Linked DNA regions of Homo sapiens: region 2 is linked to region 1. The links come from fine-mapping of genetic effects on gene expression. A gene starts in region 1. The other region holds a variant in brackets. All regions are shown on one strand. Distances are between the middles of the regions. Region 1 holds the start of BMP1 (bone morphogenetic protein 1). Region 2 has its middle 6.3 kb from the start of PHYHIP.

Region 1 (4,382 bases):
CCCTGAACTCTTGGGAAAGAGGGAAGCGCATTTGAGTACAGAGGCCTGAGTATGGGGATGGGTACCACTGGCTGAGTAGGAAAGGGGAAGACCAGGTGGCTCCATGCCCTTTCCCCAGGTTCTGGAGATGAGCATTGGGGCGCCGGAAGCCCAGCAACGCCTGGCCCTGAGTGAGCACCTGGTTACCACTGCCACCTTCTCCATCGGCTCCACTGGCCTCGTGGTGTATGACTACCAGCAGGTGGGTATGCCCAGACCTCCTGACCCTGGGACCAATGACAAGGCTCTGCTAGAGCCACCCAGCTGGGCCACTTCATCCACATCCATCTCTCCCTCTCCTCCAGACCTTTTTTGCCTGAGCCCCAGATTCTAGTATGACTCCCGTGCCCAACCTAGAGGGAGGTGGCTAAGGACCTGGGTCAGGGAGAGAGCAGGGCAGGGACCCCCGAATGATCTCCAGCATTCTGTGCCTAGCTGCTGATCGCCTACAAGCCAGCCCCTGGCACCTGCTGCTACATCATGAAGATAGCTCCAGAGAGCATCCCCAGTCTTGAGGCTCTCACTAGAAAAGTCCACAACTTCCAGGTGTGTGTGTGTGGGTGAAAAGAGTGGGCTGTCTCCCTCCCAGGGCTGCTGGGAGGAGTGTCCGAATGGTGGCTATTTGTCACCTGTAAAGCACTGTTCCTCATTGGCTGCCAGCTGACTGCCCCTCTCCTATTCCCCTGCACGACTCCTTTCCTTCCCACCCCACTGCCAAGCTGCTGGGCTCAGCTGAGTCCACTCACTACCTGGTGGCTTCTGACTCTAGCACAGCCCCTCTTTACTGATGAGAAAACTGAGGCTCAGAGAGATTGCCTGATATACCTGAAGTCCCACAATAAGGGCTGCACATGGGATAGAAACTCACTTCCTACATTCCAGATGGAATGCTCTCTGCAGGCCAAGCCCGCAGTGCCTACGTCTAAGCTGGGCCAGGCAGAGGGGCGAGATGCAGGCTCAGCACCCTCCGGAGGGGACCCGGCCTTCCTGGGCATGGCCGTGAGCACCCTGTGTGGCGAGGTGCCGCTCTACTACATCTAGGACGCCTCCGGTGAGCAGGTGTGATCCCAGGGCCCCTGATCAGCAGCGGAGGAGCGCTCGGGCCACCTGCCCGGGCTGTGGAGGAGCGCTCGCGCTGACCAGGCGCTGGGGCGTCCACTGAAGCGGGGTCATCCAGGCAACTCGGGGGAGGGGAAGCTCACAGACCGGTACTTCCCACTCCCCTGATTCTCTCTGTCCATCCTCAACATTCCTTTGCTTCACAGGGTCAGTGGAAGCCCCAACGGGAAAGGAAACGCCCCGGGCAAAGGGTCTTTTGCAGCTTTTGCAGACGGGCAAGAAGCTGCTTCTGCCCACACCGCAGGGACAAGCCCTGGAGAAATGGGAGCTTGGGGAGAGGATGGGAGTGGGCAGAGGTGGCGCCCAGGGGCCCGGGAACTCCTGCCACAACAGAATAAAGCAGCCTGATTGAAAAGCAAAGGGTCTGCTTCTGTCTTCCTGCAGGGCGCAGTCCTGCCCTGGCGGGGGCCGGCCAAGAAGGGAAGGGCCTTGGGAGAGCAAAGTGGGGTTTGCCATTCGCCCTCTGTCCCAGGGCGCTGGGGCACTGGGTCCACCTCGGCGGGGGAGAGGGGCTCGCAGGGAGCCATCCACGGGCTTTCGGCGCCCTCCAGCGGCGTCTCCGGAGGAGGGAGAGACACCAAGACAGCGAGAGAGACAGAGCGCAGAGAGCGAGACGCGAGAGAGCGAGGGTCCAAGAAGGGGAGATAGGGAGACGCGGGCGGAGAGACCGACCCGAGGCGGGGGCGCGGGGCAGGGGCGGCGCGAGGACCTGACAGCGTGTCCCGCGGCGGGGCGGGGGCTCGGCCGCGCGCCCGCGGGGGAGGCCGCCGCTAGAGGGCACTTCAGGAGGGACAGCCCTCCCGGCACCCCGGGGCCCGAGCTCCAGCCCCGGCCTCGCGGCCCGCGGCCCGCGGCCCGGGCGGCCCGAGCCCCCTCCCCGGGCGCGCGGCTCTCCGCCTTCCCCGCCCCGGCTGGCGCGCGGCCCGGCCCGGCCGAGCACTGTCCCGGCCCCGAGGGGGGCAGAGCTCGGGCGAAAACCCGCCCTCCAGCGAGCTCATTTCCCTAAAAAGGGGGGGGGGAGTCGGAGGGAGGGAGGGAGGGAGAGAAAGAAAGAGAGAAAAAGAAGGAAAGGGAGAGGGAGACGGCTGGAGCCCGAGGACGAGCGCGGAGCCGCGGACCGAGCGGGGGGCGGGAGACAGGAAGGAGGGAGGCGAGCAGAGGGAAGGGGAAGAGGTCGGGGAGCGAGGGCGGGAGCGGTCGCGGTCGCGATCGAGCAAGCAAGCGGGCGAGAGGACGCCCTCCCCTGGCCTCCAGTGCGCCGCTTCCCTCGCCGCCGCCCCGCCAGCATGCCCGGCGTGGCCCGCCTGCCGCTGCTGCTCGGGCTGCTGCTGCTCCCGCGTCCCGGCCGGCCGCTGGACTTGGCCGACTACACCTATGACCTGGCGGAGGAGGACGACTCGGAGCCCCTCAACTACAAAGACCCCTGCAAGGCGGGTGAGCGCCCCCCGGCCCCCCGGCGACGGGCCAGGCGGGGAGGCGCGGGCGGGTTCGGGCTTGGGGTTGGGGGAGGACAGTCCAGTGTGGGAAGCCGGGAGCTGCCTGGTTGGCAATGCAGTGGGGAACAAAAGAACGAGGGGGAGAGGGAGGGGGATTTGGGGGACTTTTCGGACTGAAGTTTTGCCGCTGTTGGTGGAAGCTGCTGCCGCTGCCTCTCATCTTCCCAGAGGATTCCAGAGGAAGTCTCCTTGCGTCCCGGGAAAACCGGCGGGCAAGGCGGCTTTTCCTTCTGTAGGAAACTTTTCTGGCCAAACTCCTGTGCGTGCGTGTGTGTGTGTGTGTGTGTGTGTGTGTGTGTGTGTGTGTGTGTTCTTTCCCCTTCTCCCCCATCTCTCCTGCTCCAGGAGCTGGGTGTTTTCCAGCCTGTCTGGGCTGCCCTGGGGCTGCACATCTGTCTGGCTTGGATCTGGGAGGCCTGAGTCTCCAAGGAGCAGGTCCCCCAGCCACCACCCAGCCCAAGTGGAAGAAGAAAGTTTTTCCAGGGATTCCCTGAGATCGTGCTCTCTGGGTATCCCGTAGTTTAACCAGTAGCTGAAGCTTTCTGGGACTTAGGAGACAGCTGTCAAAGTCAGAGAAGCCAACCCAGAAGGGGGACTTAACTTTGTCCCTATGTGCCCAGAGACCCCCGCCAAGGCCAAGTTGGGGTGGAAAGAGGGAAAATACAAAGAGAACCCAGATATTGTATATCAGCTCTGTCACCCCCGAGACACCAGAGGCTAATTAGCTGAGGTCAGGACCCCGGAGTGTGTGTTTGCCTGTATGTGTGTGTGTTCTTTGTCTCTGAAGACTCTATGTAACCCCATCACTCCTGCTGAGCCCAGAAGGGTCCTGCCCCTGGAGTGACCAGATGGCCAGGCACTCGGGCCATTTGCCTGATTGGATGACCCTGGGCAGGCTGTTTGGGGACACACAGGGACAAGATATCAGAACTTTTCCTTGACTTCCTGCCTCTCTGACTTCAGCTCATCTCCAAATAGCCAGAGCCAGGGGAAGTGGCATAGTTGCTAGAACTGGACTGCCTGTGTGGGGCACCAGGGGCGGAGGGGCAGGTTGCTCTAGTCCTGGCTCTGGAGACCCTGTTCAGGGACTCTCCTGGGAGGGTGGCCCACAGGCAGGAATAAGAGACCATCCAATGGAGGAAATCAGGGCAAATCCCTCAGCCCTTACCCCTCTACACCTGCTGGGCTGCGGGTAAACCAGGACATTTGCTGTCATTTTTCTCGCTGGGGGCTGGGAGTGGGTACAGGGCAGAGTGGACTGCGCATGGACTTTGAAGGCAGGCACATCTAGCTTTCAATCCTGACCCTGCTACTCATTATAGCTGTACCACCTCAGAATGGTAATGATCATGTCTGAACTGCCACTTTCACACCTGTAAAATGGAACTGATCATGCATCTTCCCATAGAGTTGGTGGTAAGGGTTAAATATGAAAACATACATAAAACACTTAATAGTGCTTAACACACAGTCAGCGCTAAATAAATGTGGGCTCCCTACTCCCTGTTTTCTGTGCCTCAGACTGTCACTTCATTTTTTTGAGAGGTGTGGGATTGCTGGTGTCTCCTTGTGCCTCTTATCCATCAATCCATCAATACCTAATATGTGCTAGGGCCTGGAATGGATGTTGTGGGAGGTACTGAGACGTACAAGCTAGGACCCTGCCTTCAAGGAGCTTACAGTCCAGTAGGGACCCAAGACACCTACAGACATAACCAATAGCACAAA
Region 2 (4,382 bases), 73 kb after region 1:
TTCAAGAGAAAAAGATCAAGAACAATGATGAAAGAGAATCGTAAGTAGAAGGACTCATATAGAACCTCAGTACTGGAATAGTCAGTAAGTTATACCCAAAGTGGAAGAACATGATGTAGGAAATACGGAACACCACTGCGCACTGCTTGGCAAGGTACCAGGACAAGGCCAGGCGCGGTAGCTCACGCCTGTAATCTCAGGACTTAGGGAGGTTGAGGCAGCCGAATCGTCTGAGGTAGGAGTTCGAGACCAGCCTGGCCAGCATGGCAAAACCCTGTGTCTACTAAAAATACAAAAAGTAGCCAGGCGTGGTGGCGCACGCCTGTAGTCACAGCTACTCAGGAGGCTGAGGCAGGAGAATCACTTGATCCCGGGAGGTGGAGGTTGCAGTGAGCCAAGATCGTGTCCCTGAACTCTAGCCTTAGCAACAGAGCAAGACTGCCAAAAAGAAAAAAAAGAAAAAGAAAAAGAAAGAAATACCAGAAGAGTGTGACATATTGAATACAAGCGATCACCATGATGAAGCGCCTTCCCTCCATGCACCCAAAATTTGCCACACTGACTCTATTAAGAGTCACTGACAGAAGAACCTATAGAGAAGACATGAAAATACAACTCACAGATGGCTTTGACATCAATGGTGCCAAAATTCAATTACCTTCTGGAAACAATCTACTCATTTTTCTAATGCACATCCAGATTTTCTAGTTGATCTCATCACAAATTGGAATTCAATCATCCATTTAAAAAAATTCACTGAGTGCTTATCTATGTATCAGGCACTGTTTCAGGCAATGAGGATCCTGCAGTTGTAGGCAGGGAAAGGAGAACAAACAAACAAACAAAAAATCCCTGCTCTCATAGGGCTTACATTCTGGTGGGGGAAGACAGATAATTAAATAGGTAAGTGAATAAATAAACAAACTTTATAGTCTGTTGGGTGGTGATAAATGCTCTAGAGAAAAATAAGTCGGTAAGTAGAGATAGGAAACATCATGGAGAAGTCGGGAGTTATGATTTTAAATAGGGCCATCAGAGGAGGACTTTTTGAAAAGGTGACTTTGGTACACAACAAAACAAAACAAAACAAAACAAAAAACACCTGATTAAAGGATGGACGGGAGCCATGCAGAATTTTGTGGAGGAAGGGCATTCCAGGTAACAGGTGCAGGGGCCCTGAAGCAGGATGTTGCCTGATATAGTCCAGAAACAGCAGGGGGAGCCAGTGTGCAAGGAGTTGAGACTAGAGAAATGGTGCAGGGAGAGATTGTGCAGGGCCGTGGCGCAGGGCGTTCTAAGGCCTCTGATTTTGACTCTGAAATGGGAAGCCATTGGGAAGTTTAGAGCAGAGATGTGACCTAACGTGAAACATGTCAGTTGCACTATGTGGAGACTAGACTTGGAGGATTCAGGTGGAAGGAGGCCAATTAGGAGTCAATTATAATAATCAGCAATAAATGATGGTGGCCTGGACCAAGGTGGTGAGAAGTGGGAAGATCCCGGATGTATGTCAAAAAGCTGATATGTTAGAAGTAGTGCATGGGAGAGAGGAGTCAAGAGTCGCAAGGCTGGGTGCAGTGGCTCAAGCCTGTAATCTCAGCACTTTGGGAGGCTGAGGTGGGCAGATCACTTGAGACTCAGGAGCTCAAGACTAGCCTGGGCAACATGGTGAAACTCCAACTCTACAAAAAATAAAAAAAATTAGCCAGGCATGGTGCGGCATGCCTATAGTCCCAGCTACCTGAGAGGCTGAGGTGGGAGGATCACTTGAGCCCGGGAGGTTGAGGCTGCAGTGAGCCGAGATCATGCCACTGCACTCCAGCCTGGGTGACAGAATAAGAAAGATCCTGTCTCA[TA/T]AAAAAAAAAAAAAAAACCTGCAAGATTTTTAATCTGAACAACTAGTAGGATGCAGTTACCATTTACTGAGATGGGGACCACTTTGGAGAAGTAGTTTGAGGAGCAAGATCAAAAAAGTGTGGATATGGCCAGGTGCAGTGGCTCACACCAGTAATCCCAAAACTTTAGGAGGTCGAGGCAGATGGATCACTTGAGGTCAGGAGTTCGAGACCAGCCTGGCCAACACGGTGAAACCCGGTCTCTACTAAAAATACAAAAATTAGCTGGGCGTGGTGGCAGGTGCCTGTAATCCCAGCTACTCAGGAGGCAGAGGCAGGAGAATTGCTTGAACCTGGGAGGCGGAGGTTGCAGTGAGCGGAAATCACGTCACTGCACTCCAGCCTGAGCGACAGGGCAAGACCCTGTCTCAAAAAAAAAAAAAAAAAGTTTGGATGGGCACATAGGTTTCGAGATGCCCAGCAGACATCCAGCTGGAGGTGTGGAATAGGCAGAGACACATCAGGAATTCAGGGAGCACTGGACTGGAGGTGAGCCCTTAGGAGTGATCAGCATACAGTATACTTGAAGCTGAGAAACTGAACCATTGTCATGGGAGTTAGTATAGAGAAAATAGGAAAGAATTCCAAGGACAGAATTCTTTTTTTTTTTTTCTGAGATGGAGTCTTGCTCTTGTTGCCCAGGCTGGAGTGCAATGGCACAATCTTGGCTCACTGCAACCTCTGCCTCCCTGGTTCAAGCGATTCCCTGCCTCAGCCTCACAAGTAGCTGGGACTGTAAGTGCACACGACCACACACGGCTAATTTTTTGTATTTTACTAGAGATGGGGTTTCAACCTGTTGGCCAGGATGGTCTCGAGCTCCTGACCTCGTGATCCGCCCACCTCGGCCTCCCAAAGTGCTGGAATTACAGGCCTGAGCCACCGTGCCTGGCCCCAAGGACAGAATTCTGGAGTTCTCTAACATGTAAGGGTCAAGGCGATAAGGAGGAACCAGCAAATGAATGGCCTGCAAAATGATGCAAATAAACAAGGACAAATTACACAGAGAACATGTAATAGCTTGAACTTGGATAGCGTTCTCATACCTCACATTCCTTTTACTCTACCAATACATATGCAAAACAGTTTCTTATTCATTTTCAATGCCCATGAAGAATTCACAGGAGGCCGGGCGCCATGGCTCATGCCTGTAGTTCCAACACTTTGGGATGCCCGAAGGGGGCAGATCGCTTGAACCCAGGAGTTTGAGACCAGCTTGAGCAACATAGTGAGATTCCATCTCTACAAAATAATTAAAAATTAGTTGGGTATGGTGGTGCACACCTGTAGTCCCAGCTACACTGGAGGCTGAGGCACGAGGATCCCTTGAGCCCAGGAGTTGCAGGCTGCAGTGAGCTATGATTGTAGCTGTGAATAGCCACTGTACTCCAGCCTGGACAACAGAGCAAGACTCTGTTTCAGGAAAAAAAAAAAAAAGGCCGGACGTGGTGGCTCATGCCTGTAATCCCCGCACTTTGGGAGGCTGAGGCGGGTGGATCGCCTGTGGTCAGGAGTTCAAGATTAGCCTGGCCAACGTGGTGAAACCCCATCTCTACTAAAAATACAAAAATTAGCCAGGCATAGTGGCGCGCACCTCTAATCCCAGCTACTCAGGAGGCTGAGGCAGGAGAATCGCTTGAACCCGGGAGGCAGAGGTTGCAGTGAGTGGAGATCGTGCCATTGCACTACAGCCTGGGCAACAGAGCAAGACTCTGTCTCAAAAAAAAAAAAAAAAATTCACAAGAACAGATTTTTGACAGAATCTGTTATACCTTCTAAAACCTGCATTTAGACCCAGAAAACTGTATTTGTCCTCAAGAGTTTGATTATTAAGTTACAATGAGATTATTGTCTTTATTATGATATTTATGAAAATAAAATGTTATTAATAACAAACTAAGCTCAGTTGGGCACAGTGGCTCACGCCTGTAATCCCAGCACTTTGGGAGTTTGAGGCGGGCAGATCGATTGAGCCCAGGAGTTCAAGACCAGCCTGGGAAACATGGCAAAACCCTGACTCTACCAAAAGTAGAAAAATTAGCCAGTCTCAAAACCTGGTCTCAAAATAAATGGATAGATAAAAATATTAAAAGAACCTGTGTAAAATATCCCAATTTAAAAAAATCTAAATGCATTGAAAAATGACTTCAAGTATGTAAAACATTTGGGCCGGGCGCGGTGGCTCGCGCCTGTAATCCCAGCACTTTGGGAGGCCGAGGCGGGCGGATCACGAGGTCAGGAGATCGAGACCATCCTGGCTAACACGGTGAAACCCCGTCTCTACTAAAAATGCAAAAAATTAGCCGGGCGTGGTGGCGGGTGCCTGTAGTCCCAGCTGCTCGGGAGGCTGAGGCAGGAGAATGGCGTGAACCCGGGAGGCGGAGCTTGCAGTGAGCCGAGATCGTGCCACTGCACTCCAGCCTGGGCGACAGAGCGAGACTCCGTCTCAAAAAAAAAAAAAACAAAAACAAAAAACAAAAACAAAAA

What was found. PIP is the estimated chance that this variant, and not a neighbour inherited with it, causes the effect.
Region 2: its variant is the best candidate, but not a certain one, in a credible set for the expression of BMP1 in monocytes after LPS (Fairfax 2014, PIP 0.67).

The regions. Positions count from the first base shown.
Region 1 is chr8:22,162,962-22,167,343 of GRCh38, forward strand. It overlaps BMP1 (bone morphogenetic protein 1), which reads left to right and starts at 2,411. Exons shown (of 20, transcript NM_006129.5): 1 at 2,411-2,592. The coding sequence starts at 2,445. SFTPC (surfactant protein C) reads left to right here. Exons shown (of 6, transcript NM_001317778.2): 3 at 119-241; 4 at 475-585; 5 at 940-1,098; 6 at 1,305-1,518. The coding sequence ends at 1,080. RefSeq lists a silencer at 1,667-2,706.
Region 2 is chr8:22,236,241-22,240,622 of GRCh38, forward strand. No RefSeq gene overlaps it. Among named protein-coding and RNA genes, the nearest start is that of PHYHIP, 6.3 kb to the left of the region's middle. RefSeq lists a silencer at 1,096-1,390. The variant TA/T (reference allele first, on the strand shown) is at 1,856.